2 separate regions of the Homo sapiens genome follow, and region 2 is linked to region 1. A link means that fine-mapping ties the variant in region 1 to the expression of a gene that starts in the linked region. Tissue or cell type: transverse colon. Region 1 holds a variant in brackets; the other region holds the start of a gene. All regions are shown on one strand. Distances are from middle to middle.

Region 1 (8,923 bases):
CTTTGTTATAGCCACACAAGTACCAGGGGGAGGCACATGCCATGGATTACAAAGTGACCCTTAGGAATGCTGGGAACAGGTTCACAAGGTGCGTAGGTGCCTGGATGTCTTGGCTTCCTGTGAGGTTGGAGCAGGCTCTGTAGTATGCGATGATGGGACTTAAGTGTTCCCACCCTCTGGGTATAAATTTTGGGTTGAATGTGGCTCTCTGCTATTTGGTGCTTATCTTCACACCAGCACTCCTTTTTCCTTACCAAGAGCTGCAATTAACACGATTCAGGCTTTGAGACCAGAAACAGTGGCGGGAATCACTGTGCTCAGCAACATCTGCCTTGCCTCTCCGAGATCTGCTGAGAGGTACAGAAAACTTTAGGATTAGCTCAGCACATTCAGCCCCACAGCCATTGCTCTGTGCTCTAAGTGTTACACCTTTAGGCTGTAAAACATGCCTAGATAGCCAAAGGGCCACATGGAATATTTCAATGAAGGAAAATCCTATCTTTAAAGAAGATGCTGCCAGCTACCAGCCTCAGGTGAAGACTGGAAAAATAAACCTTGACAAAAAGGGAATGTTTTTACTGTATGTAAGAGCACCTTGTTTTTGTGAATGGGGTTCTTGTCTGGATGTCTGAAGATCTTTTGGATATATTTGGAAATTGAAATCTTAATTGTTGGAAACTGAATAGATAGAAGGGGGAATTGAGAAATGGGCAGACCATCACTTTGCTCTGAGGTATCCTTTGCTCTGTGGTGACACCTCAAGAGTGTCAAAAATCTTGACTCATCCAGGGAAGGGCTGTGAATTAACAGAAATGTTTTTGGGGAATAAAAAGGAAGCTTTTAACTCTGTGTTTGCAAATTTACTTACCTCAGCCCAGGAAGGTTAAATGTAAGTTAATTTGCACTTATATTGGATACAAGGTGAGAGAACTAGAAATTAATTTCTTGAGTTTACTGTGAAATTTTGAACATTTACATATTCATGCTATAAAGAAGTATTCCCTAGTTAATTTCATGCAAAGTGACAGCTTTTTCAACCTATTTAGCATATCAACAAACCACTTTTATTAGTAATGACAGGTGTATTAATAACAGGGACAAGATTTCCAGATTTCCTTTTCTTATAAGACCACAACCATTATTAACCCCAAGAACAAAACCAGAATGTCTAGGCATAATGTGACCAATTGACCCCACAATTTTGAGAAACACAGCCACACACGTTTTATGAGCCTTTTATATGACAAATGTTAAATTTGGATAACCATTTTTCAAATTATACATATTTTTCTAAAGATACTTTACAGAAAATGCTTTCCCCCCGTTTGGCAAAAAGGTTCATTCTGTGAGCCCACTGAATTCGTATTAATAATAAAGTACATTTCACTATCATATGCTGTTCTCTCATTGGTTCTATCCCATTAACACTTATTCCTGGTTGTAGATTCTGGAGCTTTCTAAAGAGATGGTAAAACCTCTCTCTAAAGAGATGGTAAATGTTTTAATAAAGTTCTCTTTGGGGGAAAAAGAAGCAAAACTTAGTCTCTTTCCTCAAGATGTTTACAAGCTATTAGAGATAACAGATACTTTTAAAAATACATGTTTTTGTTTCTTTTATGGAGTAAATGACAAAACACTGTGGAAACATTATTCTTTCCCGGGGTGTCAGGGAAAGCTTCACAGAAGAAAATAATTCAATCTGGTTTTAAAGGGTGATTGGGAGTTTGACAGGTGGAAGGAGGGGCAGGAGGGCATTCTAGTCAGAAGGAGCAGCGTGTAGAGTGGTGCAGAGGCTTCAGAGACTGATGTATTTGAACACGTATTTGTCTTGTGTGTGGGACATTTAAAGAATTTTGTGTATGTATCTTTTATTTTTTATTGCATACATTTAAGGTATACAGTGTGATGTTTTGATATACATATGCATAGTGAAATGATTACTGTAGTCAGTATATTAACATATTCCTCACTGCACAATTACCTTTTGTTTGTTTGTTTGTTTTTTGAGACAGAGTCTCGCTCTGTAGCCCAGTCTGGAGTGCAGTGGTGCCATCTCGGCGAGCTTGCCCGCTAATTTTTTTTTGTATTTTTAGTAAAGACGGGGTTTCACTGTGGTCTCGATCTCCTGACCTCGTGATCCTCCCGCTTAGGCCTCCCAAAGTGCTGGCATTACAGGCGTAAGCCACCGTGCCTGGCCACAATTACCTTTTTAATTGAGGTAGAATACCTAAAATCTAGTCTCTCAGCAAATTTTCCATATACAATATTAACTATAGTTCTCATGCTGTACATTAGCTCTCTAGACATTCATCCAATAGAACTGCAAGTTTGTACCCTTTGACCTACACCTCCCTGTTTTCTCTTCCTCCCAGCCTGGATAACTACCATTCTACCCTGTTTCTATGTGTAGTTTTTAAGTTCCATATATAAGTGAGATCAAGCAATATTTTTCTTTCAGTATTATTTCTTTCCTTCAATATTGTTATTTTACTTAGCGTAACGTCCTCCAGGTTCACCCATGTTATTGCAAATATAGCAGCATCTCCTTTTGTAAGGCTGAATGATATTCCATTGTACATATATACTGCAAATTATTTATCTGTTCATCTATTGATGGGCACTTATGTTGTTTCTCTGTCTTGGCTATTGTGAATAATGCTGCAGTGAGCATGAGAATGCAGATATCTCTATGAAGTGCTGATTTCATTTCCTTTGGGATACTCAGCAGAGGGATTGCTGGGTCATATGGTAGTTCTGTTTTTAGGGGAACTGCCATACTGTTTTCCATAATGGCTGTACCAACTTACATTCCCACCAAGAGTGTATGAGAGTTCCCTTTGTGTGTGAAAATATTACCATCTCCTCATTTTTAGCAGGCACCTATATATAATGATGACTTCCAAATTGAGCATCTTTCTTACAGATCTCGCTCCTTCATAGGTGGTGTTGTATACTTTACATTGCATCAAATCATGTAGGACATAATGACCAGTTGTCCTGCTGTTACAAAGCTTTAAAATTAATAAAGCTAAGTTTGAGCAGTGGATTCAGAAGTGACAGCCTGCTATATCCATAGTAAAGTTCCAATCAAACCTTTTAAAAAAGTTCATTCACTGATGATCTCTGCCTTATTTACTTATTTGAGTAGAAGTTTTTAAATGGTGCTTTCCTAATTCTGTCGTTCTTTCTGTATTCATTAGCTGTAATTCTTCCAAAAAGAAGAAATTTCCTTTATCTATTAGGGTTATTGATTTTCTCTTTAACAGGAAAGAGGATAAATGTTCATATATTTCCCTTTTGTTGCCAATTTTCAAAATAAGGGTTTACCCAACTCCACTTACGACACATGAGAGATTTTGCTTTTATTCTTGCATGTCTCTTTTTGTATTGCTATGACCTCATGGATTTTATATATTATGTATTTCAATTAACTGCAGTCATTAGTCTTTTTGATGCTAAAACTAATCTATCTATGGCCAATGAAGAGACTCCTTTGGGTTACCTCCTCTGTTCCATGATATGATTCCATTTGTCTTTGATTATTTGCTTTCTGGCATAACAAGATGTCCAGGCTCATGGTATACATATTTTCTGTTCCAGTCCTGGAATCAGCCTTCCCTTCAAGGATGCCTCTTTTCTTTTATTGAGGAAGGGTTCTTAGACATCACAGTTAGGGTGCTCGGAGTGATTATTGCTAATGGGTTATCATTGCTCCTAGGCCTTTTCAATAGACAGAGCTAGGAAATATCTATATTGGAAATAGAAAGCATCATGAATTTGTACAGATATTTTCAAATCAGCTTAATAACATGGCTTTTAAAAAACTTTTT[T/A]AATATTTTAAACGAGCATCAGAACCAGGCATGGTATAGTCATTCTTCATGAATGATTCTCTTGGTTTTGCATCCCTTATCAGTTGTCATTGTCCTTACATAGCCTTCCTCCCCAAACAGATTCTTTTAAATTTATTTTCCTTAGTTCCTAAAATGAGTAAAACTTACTTTACAATACATGTGGGATTATGTGCAGAGATTGGTTCCTAGTGATTTTGTATAGTATTTATCCCTTAGCAAATGTAGTTTAAGAACATGTTAATCTGATTTCCAATCACATGATCAGGTGGGTGGATAGTGTCAGTGCCATATGCAATGGTCATGTCCCAGGCATCAATGATGCCCACGTTGAGGTCTTTGAAAATATCCTTCATGATAAGATAGTGAATATAACCATGGAAGTCTCCAAACCTCTCTGTCTCTATGTGCATCTCCCTGATGTTTTCTGTCTTAATAATCACTTTAGTGGCTGGGCTTCTTAGGAACAGTCTTTCAATAGCCTTTTGAACACCGATGGCCCTGCGAATAAAAATGTCAATGGGAAATGGTCTAAAGTGCTGGCCAAAGGTGATGACGATGGCTGTGTTTTTGTCACCTGATAGCCGGTCAATTTCCCGAGGGATATAATCATGATCTATCAGAGAGTAGAGCTGGAAAGTGACGAAGGGATAGCTATGTTTTTTCCATTGAATCTGAGTGTGTCTTTCTGCATCCAGAAGCAAATGTTTCTTAAAGATTCCAGTTTCATGAAGATCAAAAAACTTCAGTGCTGATAAAAAAACAAATAGATGTTTTAAATAGAAGATAATGGTTAATATTCATGAAAAAGAATGTCCTATCATTTAAAATACCCACCCTACCTAGATAATTGCTCACTGGAGCCTTTCTACTCTCTAGGGTACAGTACCCCCAGTTCATACATGTAAAATGTCAATCAAAAATGTAAAGTTTTCACTGGAATTTTAAAAGAAGACCAACATTTCTTATGAAAGAAGGAATAAAATACATTTTAAATGTAAAGGTTCAAATCCAGAGAGCCAAATGAAGTAAAAAACAAAATAGCTCAAACGAGAGAATAGAGACCTCATTAAAAGTACTTTAAAACCAGCCTGAATTTCTAAGAGAATATAAAGTAACTACCTACTTTTTACAACTTTGGGGAAGTAGTAGATCCACTGACGTAGTGTAGAGTCTCCCAGGAGGTAAATGAGTTTGCCTTTCAAACAGCCATTTATCTTAATTGTGTCTAACTGAACCTGGTTGCAAAATGTTGTTATCCATTTTCCTTGTAAAGTATAACCACCAGGGACAGGAGGCTTCATTCCAACTTGGCATGTCTCTTCTATTTTTTCTCTCTCTGGTAACAAAGACACTCGTAAATGATTTTATTGGCAAAACTTAGACATCTAGCCTTCTTTCCTGGTCTTTCATTTTCTTGCTCTCTTTCCCCCTTCCTGTAATGCCTATTTCCTTTTTCTGTCCCTTTCTAGTCCTATTCTTTGATCATTAGCTTTGCTTCAGGCACTTCTGCTTATTCCTTTAAGAGATTTTGAGTCATCTTGCCTTCTGTCTAATTCCTTTCCTCCTAAATTTGGTCATGAGCTAAATCTTGACGTTCTATCCTTTCTTTGACGTTCTATCCTTTTTTCCTGACTCTGTGGTGACTTCTGTCTTTGTCTCTTACCCAAATGATGTTAGTGGTCTGCCAGTTGGTGCCGCTGTATAAAATTCTTTACCTTTGTTTCATTAATGAAGGAATGAATAATCTTAATTTTTCCGTGTTCAAAAAATGGCTTAAAATATGTACATTAAATATAAAAACCTCAAATAGTATAATAGTCACCTAGCTTGACAATTTTTTGTAAAACCAGACTTTGCTAAAAGCAACATGCAACATCCAATACAAACCAATATTCTGAGATAATCCAGGAAGTTTCACTAGAGTTTCAGGCTCTGTTTGCACATGGTCTGCCTTCTATTACAGGTAGGTAGCAGTGAAGCAAATGTCTTGTTATGGCATAACAAAGGGCATCCAATTTCTCCTGTCATGTTTCCTTACCACTCTCTATGCTGCCATCCCATCACTGAGCCAATGCCTTGTATTTTAGGATTTGTTATATCAGGACTTCTATACTGATACTACGTTCTGTATGAGATAGGAAACCAGTTTGAATGCTGTAAGAAAGACCAAGATAATAATGACTTAAAAATAAAAGATTATTTCTGTCTCACATAACAGGCCTGGAGTGAGAAGGCCAGGGCTAATATGCCATTGCATGGTGTCAGGGACTCTTGTTCCTTCTATGTTGTGGCTATGACATTCTTACTGTGTGGCTTTAATCTCATGGTCTAACTTGGCTCTTGCTGTTCTCACATTATATCTAAAGTTCGGCTAGTAGTAAGGGAAGAAATGGATAGGGAGGGCCAGTTGTTTTGCTTTTAAAGCATGACCTAGAAGTTTCCCACTTGCACTTCTGGAAAAAACTTAGTCATGGCCACAACTAGATATAAGAAAGGATAGCCATGGGTCTAGCCACAACTGGTTTCTATTACTAAAGAAGGAGAAGGCAGTGAGTATTGGGGAACCATCAGCAGTTTCTGCTTTACCCTCCTTGCTTAGTTCCTCAGAGGCCTTGCAGTCTCTGGCTGCCTATGTCCACAGAATAGTGCATCATTACATGGTTGTATTGTATTTGTAACCTATGGACAAAGTGGTAAAATGGTGCTGGTGGCAGAATTGGAAAGTGCACTTGGAATAGCTCTTAAGTCCTGGTGATTTGGCTTACTAAAGGGAGTTTGTATAATCCTATAATTATGTTGGAATTACAGTGTGATATTGATGGGTTTCTATGAGGCTTGATAGCATTGCACCCTAGATGATTGAATACCATGACCCTGGAAACTTGAGATTCATAGTTATTAAGTATTCTTTATCCTAATAATGTACTGGCACACTTTGCTGAGAACATAGCCTTTAAGTGTATTGTTGTAAACCCTATGTTGTGTAATCTTTATGTGTCAGGTATTCATTTTGCCACGTCTCAAACTTATAACAAATTTGCTTATGATTACTCTTACATGTTTATTTTACTTAATAGTTTTAGAATAAGCTTGAGCATTTTGAACAGTATGTGGGTAATAATATCAGGATTCTGTATATCAGGCAAAAGCAACTCCATTTTAGATGCTAATCTGCTATGTTGGCTCCTGATTAACCCCGGTTTATCTAGTGTTTCTTGTATAACAGCAGATAATTATGGTAAATCTTGCCCGTAGGTCAAACAGCCTTGGTGGTATTGTACTTCAATTGTCCTGTACATCCCATCTGAACCACCCTTCCCTTATGCTCTGTAAGCCCTAGATCTGGGGGTAATGGTGTGGAGATCCACCATCTTGTCTCAACAATGGAGACATAAACATGGCTTCTGCTTGTAAGTCCCTACTAAATGTTTCGAGAAACTGGATGTGTCAGACTCTTTTTTGGCCTCTCAGCTTCCTCAAACTTTGGGAGTAGGTTTGCATAGACCTGCCCACTGAGAAATAGATTCCATTATATTTTTTATTAGATAGGGAGACTAATAGTCCCCCAAAGATATCCACATCCTAATTCTTAAAACCTGTGAATATGTTGAAGCAGAAGATATAAAAAGAAAAACAAGTTTTCCTGTACTAGGCTGACCCACTCTAAGACCCAGGGAAGGGCAGGGCTCTGATGAGGCTTTGGTAGCATTATCTGCAGAGCCGGGTCCCAGAAGGGATGGGCTTCAGAGTCTCTCCCTCCCATCCCAAAGCAAGGTTGGGAAAAACAAGTTTTTCTCATTCAGCTTCCCCCTTCCCCCCTTACTATTCTTAAAATTATCTTTGCAAGTTTTGTAAGTGCCTGTTTTTCCCTTCTGTGCAGCACAGTGAAGGTCACAACATATGCCTGAGTTGCAACACCTGGCTTGAGTTGTAAAACCTGTCACTGTTTGATAAACTGCCTTTGTTCTGCTTCTGTAAGCTTGCTTGCCCGCCCTGTAGGTTTTGCACCATTTAGTGAAGTGTATATTCAAGCTAGCCAATACCCTTTCAGGTACATGTATAAGAGTCAAGCCCTGTCTTTGTTCGGGGCTCAGCCTTTGGAAGTTAATCCACTGGGCAGGTAGCCACCTAAATAAAATCCTCTTATTCCATCCATTGGTCTCTCCTGTCCCTTAATTCCCACAACAATGTTGCCTTTTCCAGTTATGACCAGGGTATGGCCTTTGAGATGGAGAGACTATCCTGGATTACATGGGTAGGCCCAATCTAATGTCATTGGTCCTCAAAAGTGGAAGAGGGAGGCAGAAGAGTGGGTCAAAGATGTGACAGGAAAACTTGACCCTCTGCTGTGGCTTTGAAGATAGAGGAAGAGGGCTGCAAGGAATGTGGGCAGCCTTAAAAACCTGGAATAAGCAAAGGAACAGATTCTCCCCTGGAGCCTCCAGGAAGGAACATGCTCCTGCTCTACCTTGGGATTAGCTCAATGAGACCAGCATTGGACATCTGGACTACAGACTATAAGATGATATATTTTTGTTTTTTAAAGCCACTTTATTATAGCAGCAATAAGAAAATGATACATAGACAACTGACATTCTTTTAAATATAAAATCATCCCATCTAGAGACAGTATTTTTTCCTTCTATTTATATGAATTTTATTTTATATTCCTTAGTGACATTTTAAATTGCCTTTCTGCAGATCATGCTTTTGTTAAATTGTGAATTTGCATTTTAAACCACAAAGTGGATCATACCACTCTCTTCCTCAGTTGGTTTCTGTGGCTTTCAAGTCTACTGAATAATCACTGAAATCCTCAGCATGACACTTGAGAACCTTCATGATTAGGTTCTTCCTCTCTTTCTAGGCTTATCCTCTGCTGCATTCCACAATATGCTCACCCCATTGGCCTATTGAAGAAGTCCATGATGACTTTGCTCATGACGGGAATTATCAGGTAAAAAGAGTTAGATAAAAAATACAGGACACCGTATTAAATTTGTATTACTTCTAACAAGGAATAATTTTTTAGTGTAAGTATGGTCCATGCAATATTTTCCCCTTTTCTCAAT
Region 2 (7,440 bases), 37 kb after region 1:
TAGTAGAGACAGAGTCTCACCATGTTGGCCAGGATGGTCTCGATTTTCTGACCTTGTGATCTGCCTGCCTTGGCCTCCCAAAGTGCTGGGATTACAGGCGTGAGCCACCACGCCCAGCCAAGAATACATGCATTTTAAGTGCACTGTTTTATGAATGTTGGCAAATGTAGACACCTGTGTACCCATCACAATCAATAAGTAGAATATTACCACCACCCCAAAGTTCCATTTCCTTGTCAATTTTGTCCTCCTCCTGTGCATGCCCCGCTGCCCATGCCTAACGTGTTTCTGGCCCCGGATAATCACAGATTTAGTTTTTGGCACTACAGATGAGATTTCTTTTTCTAGAGTTTCATATAAATGGAATAATGTAGAATGTACTCTTTTGTGTCTGGCTTCTTGGACTTATGATTATGTTTTTGAAGATTCATCAAGGTTGCATTTATCAGTAGTTTGTTCCTTTTCATTATTGAGCAATATCTCATAATATCTATTCCTCATTTGATAAATATTTGGGTTGTTTAAAGATTGGGGCTATTGTGAATAGAGCTGCTCTGAATATTCATATATGGTTCTCTATATGGACAAATGTTTTAATTTCTTTTTGGTAAGTACCTAAGGGTGGAATGACAGGGCCATATGGTAAGTAAATGTTTAACTTTTGACAAATCTACAAAAAGCCTACTGGAATTTATTGCTCTTAATCTGTAGGTAAATTTGGGGAGAATTGCTCTAGTAACAATATTGAGTTTTCCAATTCATGAAAACAGTTTATACCTCTCAGTTTGAATTTATGGAGAGTTGGTTTTATTTACTTTAAGGTGGGTCTTGAAAAGCCTGGGCTTTTTACACCACGTTCCTCCTTTTTACTGGAACTCAAAACCTACAAACTCTGTTTCCTCCTTCAGTGAGCAACAGATTAAATCTCTACTTATTCAGCAGTTGTTCTGTGCTACACTTTGTGGAGTCTCCCTTGGATACACAGAGCTCAGGGATCAGTCAAAGATTTGAGAGTAGATTTCAGGGCTTTTTCTTCTAAGGCCTTTCTCCTGGAATTTCCCTGGTCAATTGCCTTGAACTCCATCCTGTGACATCTCCAGGCTGCAAGTCTGCAGTTTTCTGCTTGAATTCAAGTTGCTTTGCACAGTACACACTGAGGTATATTGTCAGGATAAGAGCCCTTAAAGCTGGCTCCCACGCAGCATGATTCCCTACTTTTAAGTGTCAAATTCCCTCTAGTTTCTGCCAGTTTTTGGCCTTTTTCTAGTGCTTTCATATCATTTTTTAAAATGTATTTTTTTCCAGAGTTTAATACTGTTCTATGAGAAATATTAGTCTCATCTAAGCCACTCTGACATTTTTTGCAGCTGGAACTTCCTAGTCCATTTATATTTCATATTATCGTTGATATATCTATGTAATTTTATCTTACTATTTGGTTTTTATTTGTCCCACCTTCTCTATTTCTATTCCATTTTCTCCCTTTTTGACTTTTTTTTTTTTTTGAGACAGAGTCTCACTCTGTTGCCCAAGTTGGAGTGCAGTGGCACTATCTTGGCTCACTGCAACCTCTGTCTCCTGGGTTCAAGCAATTATAGTGCCTCAGCCTCCTGAGTAGCTGGGATTACAGGCGTGAGCCACCACACCTGGCCAATTTTTTGTAGTTTTAGTAGAGACGGGGTTTCACCATGTTGGCCAGGCTGGTCTCGAATTCCTGACCTCAAGTAATCTGCGTGCCTCAGCCTCCCAAAGTTCTGGGATTACAGGCATGAGCTACCGTGCCCGGCCCCCTTTTTGACCTCTTGTGTATTAGTCAAAAACTCTAAAATTATTCTATTTCCATTCTCATTTAGCTTGTTATAAAAACTACTTTAATAATTTCTACTCTATTTTGGAAATTTCAATATGCATCTTTGACTTAATGAAGTCTAATATAAATTGGTACTTTTACTAATTATTAGGAAATGAGGGACCTTAGAAAACTGTACTCCATTTACATTTAACTCTTTCACATTTTCTTGCTATAGTCAGGCATTTCAGTTCTAGAAATATTTATTTTATTTCTTTTAGAGATGGAAAAGAAATATGCTGCCTAGGTTGGACTGGAACTACTGGGCTCAAGTGATCCTTCTACCTTAGCCTCCCATGTAGCTGGGACTATAGGCACTCACCACTGACTGGTTTAATTCTAGGAATATTTAAAACACCACAATATATTATATATAATACATATATATATATATATATATATATATATATATATATATAAAATCCTTGTTCATTTATATTTGTACATTTAGTTTCCTTCTTTTTCATTCTTCTTTGCCGTTCTCTACTGTCATTTGGGAGAATTTATCTTCTGCTTCAAGAACTATCTTTAATATTCTGTAAGACATCTTCTAGTGACAAATTCTCAAGGTTACATTTTAAAAAATCTTATTTTGCTTTCATTTTGAGGGTTTCTTTTGCGGGCTATACAATTCTAGATTGACAAGTGTTATTTATTTATTTTTGTTTTTGGTGGTTAAAAGCATCAGCACTTTGAATATGTTACCTCATTTTCCTTCTATTTCCCTAACTGCCCTTTGTTCCTCTCTTGCTTTCTCTCTAGAATCTAGATCTCTCAACCCCTCACTGCCCCAGTTGCTCTCTGACGCTTAACAGATCAAATATAACATCCTCTAGCTTTTCTAGTTGCTCTCAAAAGGAGACTATAAGCAAGTCTACTATTTTGGGAAACATAAATTTTATTTATAATTATAAATATAAACTATACACACATCTATGTATATGTGTTTATGTGTGTGTGTATATATATATCCATATATATGCACATTCTATATGTTTTTCTTTTTATTTCATTTTCCAAACAAATATCTGTGGCTGATGTGTAGAAATGCAAGTGCTTTATTTTAATAGTGCTTTTATATAGGCACACATAGAGAACAAAGATGATTAGAAGTGGCCATATTGGGTACGTTTGCCTTGTTTTCATAGTTAGTTTCAACATTTTACTATGTGTAATTAAATATATGATGTTGGATTTGTGATATTTGCTTTTCTTAATGCCTTCTATTAGATTGAGGAAGTTCTCTTTTAAGAAAGTTTGTGAAGTGTTTCTATTACTAATGGAAGTTGAGTTATTGACAAAGGCCTTTTCTGATTCATTGAGGTAATTATATGAATTTTTAAACTTTTATGTTTAAATGTGATGTATTACATTCGTATATTTTCTAAAGCTAAACAATCCTCCTGTTATGGACTTAAGCTGAACTAGGTCACAATATAGATTGGATCTTTATACATAACTCTGCTGTGCTATGTAAGAGTACAAATTAACATGATCGTTTTGAAAGCAGAATGGCAATATTTCTGTTAGTTTGTGTTTATCTATGCCCTATGTCCAAGCAATTCATTCTGGATACATCACAGAGGACTTCTCAGTCAGGTCCATAAAGAATCACATACAAAGTTTGTTTTCAGTTGATTATATGTATAGCTGTAATTGTAGGGAATTAAATAGACTTTAATATGTATTACTATGAAATGGTTAAGAAACATGTAGTGGATGTGTATTGTGGGATACTATCCAACAGTTAGATACAACTCACTAGATTTACCTGTAATATGAAGAGCTCTTAAAAACAGCTCTAAGTGAAGAAAGAAATAAACATAAATCTTTATCACATTTTTATGTAAATTAAAAATATACATACAAAGCACAATACATGGATACACACATACTCAAAGACAAAAATTAAAAAAGAATCCTTCCTGCTTTTCTGGCTTTGTTTATGACTCATCCTACTGCCCACCTGGGGTGGCCTGCCCCTGCACCAATCTAGACTCTATAGTCAGTGAATCCCCAGCTCAGGGGCAATCTCTACAGGAAACTTTCCAGCATAACTCTAGACCACAACGATCTCTCCCGTATTTTGAATTCCTGTGACATATTCATACATTTTCCACCCAAACAATGTCATACATAAAACAAGGCAAAGAAATATCAGTTGTAAACAGGTATTTTTGATGTCCTTCTTCCTCTCTCCAACTAGATGTTAGGTTGAGTGACTGTATCCATGCTTGCTTCCCACAAAGCACTGGGGACTTTTGCTGGTTGGTTATTAGAGAAATATTTTATCTTGATGCTGTCTCACCGTCAAAACCAGCCTATCCTTGTCAGTAAGAGAGGCTCTCACTATCAGTTTTTTTTTTTGTTTCCCACACTTTCTTCTGAGCTTTCTCCCTTTTCTTATCTTTCTCTGACTTGAGAGAACCCCTCAGCAGACACAGTCTTTCTAATTTCTTTTGCTTTGTTCTTCCCTGCCCTCCACTGACCACTGGCAAGATTAGAAATAGAGAAAGGCAGTCTCCATAGTTTTGCTTACTCACCTGTTTTAATGATCTCTCCTATCTGGGTGGCTGGAAAAGTACCTGTGAGTTCTTAACTGGCTCTTGTGGCTGTGTAAAATGTTTTTGTTCCTTGTCTGTGAACACATTTATTTTCATCAGTCTGTTTTCCTCGTAAATTGGCTTATCTTGGGGTGGAGATTTGAAGAGGCAATAAACAGTAGTACAATTAACTGACAATTAGATAATTCCACAGCCTCTGTTAACTGGGTGTTACTCGGGTATTCTTTGAGATTCCTTCTCTCTCCATGTTACTGGTGACCCTTGGGAATGGAAAACCTCTTAGTTCTGAAACAGCTGTGGTCCTTGAAGTCATAGTGTAAAAATACCCCAAGTGACTCTATGGATAGGCTTTCCTCAGAAAATCTGAAGTCTCACGACAACTCCAAACAAGAGAACAAATTGTCAGTGGACACCATGCAGAGAACTGGTGGGTGATTGAGAATTCTTTTTTTTTCTTTTTTTTTTTTTTTTGGACAAGGTTTTGCTCTGTTGCCCAGGCTGGAGTGCAGTGGCGTGATCATAGCTCACTGCAACCTCGAACTCCTGGGCCCAAGCCATCCTTCTGCCTTGGGCCTAGGGGCTACAGGTGCATGCTGCCACACCTGGCTAATATTTTTAATTTGTATTTTGTAGAGATGGGGTCTTACCATGTTGCCCAGGCTGGTCTTGAACTCCTGGGCTCAAGTGGTCTGTCTTCCTCGGCCACCCAAAGTGCTGGGATTACAGGCATGAGCCACTTTTCCCAGCTGGATCTTTTATCGGTTTGAAAAGGATATCTAATAAATGGGGAAGGACTATTTGCTCTGAGTTAGGGAAAGGGGATATGGTTCATTAACTCGTCATTATCATAAACATTATTTAATTCACCAATACAGTAAATGTTGCTGTAACTTCTGCTATGCCAAATGCCTGTAACATGAAAGGGAATATATGGGTGTATATGAATAATTAGGCCTATTAATCCTTCTTTCCCCTCTAACCCCTGGTCACCACTGGTTTTCTTACTGTCTCCATGGTTTTGACTTTTACAGAATGTCACATAGCTGCAATCATACAGTGTGTAGCTGTCCCAGATTGGCTTTTCTCTTAGCGATACGGATTTCAGTTTCTCTGTCTTTTTGTGGCTTGATAGCTTATTTCTTTAGTGCTGAATAATATTTTACTGACTACATATTGGAGACCTTTCTCTCATGCCTCATGCCCTTCCCTCTGGAACCTTCATATTTGTCATGTGACTGTTACTTCAGCTCTGTAACATAAATCTAACTTCATCTCTCTTTCTAAGCCTGGATGCCCAGACCCTGTGCCAATTTGTAAGATTTAGTTTTGAAGATCACAAGTATTATTAGTACTGTGCTAAGTACTCATAGGATTAAATGAATTAATACATGTACAACATTTAAAAACAGTTTCTGACACTTAGTTTAAGCACTAAATAATTAGCAACTACTACTATCACCACCCCAACTACTACTATTTATGCATGGGAGTAAATTTTGAGATTGGCTTTTTTCTCCCACTCAGCGTAACGTCCACGATGTCCATCCAAGTTATTGCATGTGTCAACAGTTCATATGAACATATTGCCTCACTCACAATTAGGCAATATTGTTTGTTACCTTGGTTTCTTTAACCAATATTGTTTCTAAAACCTACTCCTCACTACTCAATTTGTTTCTTATCTTGTAAAGTCTTTGGTAGCTCTTTCAGAGGGGACCAGTATTAGACTGAGTACATATTTTTTCTTCCTAAATAGATGATAAATTTACTTGCTATAGAATTAGGTGAAAAATATTTTTCTTCTTAGCCTTGAGGATACTGTTTCATTCTCTTCATGCATCCAATGTCATTTATGAAATGTCTGATGTCAAAGTTAGTATAATTGTGAATCTTTGTAGCATTTTTCTCTTCATCCTTGGTATTATGAAATTTTATGCAGATCTTTTTATCTTCATCATGTTTGGCGCTTTTAATGGCCCATTAGACCTGAGATCTAATATCTGTTAACTTTTCTTTCATAATTTTGATCACACTTTCCTTTTATTCTGTATTCTGCAAGAATTCTTGAGTTAACATTTTATTTCTCCAGTTTATTGTTTTCATTTTGAACTTTAGTGTGTCCCTCAAGTTTTTCTTTATTTCACGTATCATATTTTAAATTTAACAAATATCTAGTTAACTCTAAGTATGGCTGCAATATCCTCTCACATCAGTCTGGTAATTAAACACACTTATTCTAAATTCTTGTATCAACTGTCCTTTTAACTTTGTTTTCTTGGCATGTCAATTTCTTCTGATTATTGTGCTTTATGCCTCTCTTTCAAGTGTTAGTCTCTTTCAAATGATTGGTAATTTTTGGTTATGTGTTCATCTTTGCATTTGAAATTTTCTGCTAGCCTCCCTGTAAATGTTGGGTTTATTTATTGCATTTTCTTCTGGGAGAGTGGTTAGAAATATTTCCTGGTGCTGAGTGCCAATATCCAGTCTTCTGAGAGTCCATGCTCTCTTCTTCCCTCTTGGGGATTATGCACAGCACTGCTCTGTCTTCCCAGCCCTTGCACACATTCTCAGTGCTTCCATATGATATGTGGAGAGGTCATACCTCATGGCTGTCTCTGTTAAACTCTGTGTCCACCTTTACTGATTTCAGTAGGAATCATAGGAAAAGACAGAAATACTATTATTTTACATATTTCTCATCAGGATATCCAACAAGTTCTGTTTGATATCAAACATAAATCCTGGGACTATTTAATTATGCCATTTTCCTAGACTCTGTAACAACTTTCACAACTGCATCTGTAATCTCTCTTATTTATTACTATCCAGAGTCAAGTTGACTTTACAGAAGTAAATTATCTCTTTCAGTCGTTGTATCCAATCACACAAGCTAAAGGAAAAAGTATACTTAATGACTCATATGAGTGGGAAGTCTTAGGAATTAATCTAGCTTCAGATAAGGCTCGATCTGTGGTTCAAACAATGTAATCAAGCTTCTCTCTAAGCCTGTAGGCTCTCCTGTCCTAT

Direction of the effects. Alleles are on the strand shown, and positions count from the first base shown. SD is a standard deviation of normalised expression in the study named.
For the expression in transverse colon of the gene that starts at base 4,476 in region 2, A is the low allele of the variant in region 1 and T is the other (large effect, 1.6 SD a copy in CEDAR).

The links. PIP is the estimated chance that this variant, and not a neighbour inherited with it, causes the effect.
Region 2: it holds the start of NXPE1, and the variant in region 1 is fine-mapped to the expression of NXPE1 in transverse colon (CEDAR, PIP 0.95).

The regions. Positions count from the first base shown.
Region 1 is chr11:114,517,905-114,526,827 of GRCh38, forward strand. It overlaps NXPE1 (neurexophilin and PC-esterase domain family member 1), which reads right to left. Exons shown (of 9, transcript NM_001395504.1): 8 at 4,975-5,187; 9 at 1,030-4,599. The coding sequence ends at 4,064. It also overlaps a transcript of NXPE2 not described here. Among named protein-coding and RNA genes, the nearest start is that of NXPE1, 38 kb to the right of the region's middle. The variant T/A (reference allele first, on the strand shown) is at 3,831.
Region 2 is chr11:114,555,406-114,562,845 of GRCh38, forward strand. NXPE1 (neurexophilin and PC-esterase domain family member 1) reads right to left here and starts at 4,476. Exons shown (of 9, transcript NM_001395504.1): 1 at 4,393-4,476. It also overlaps a transcript of NXPE2 not described here.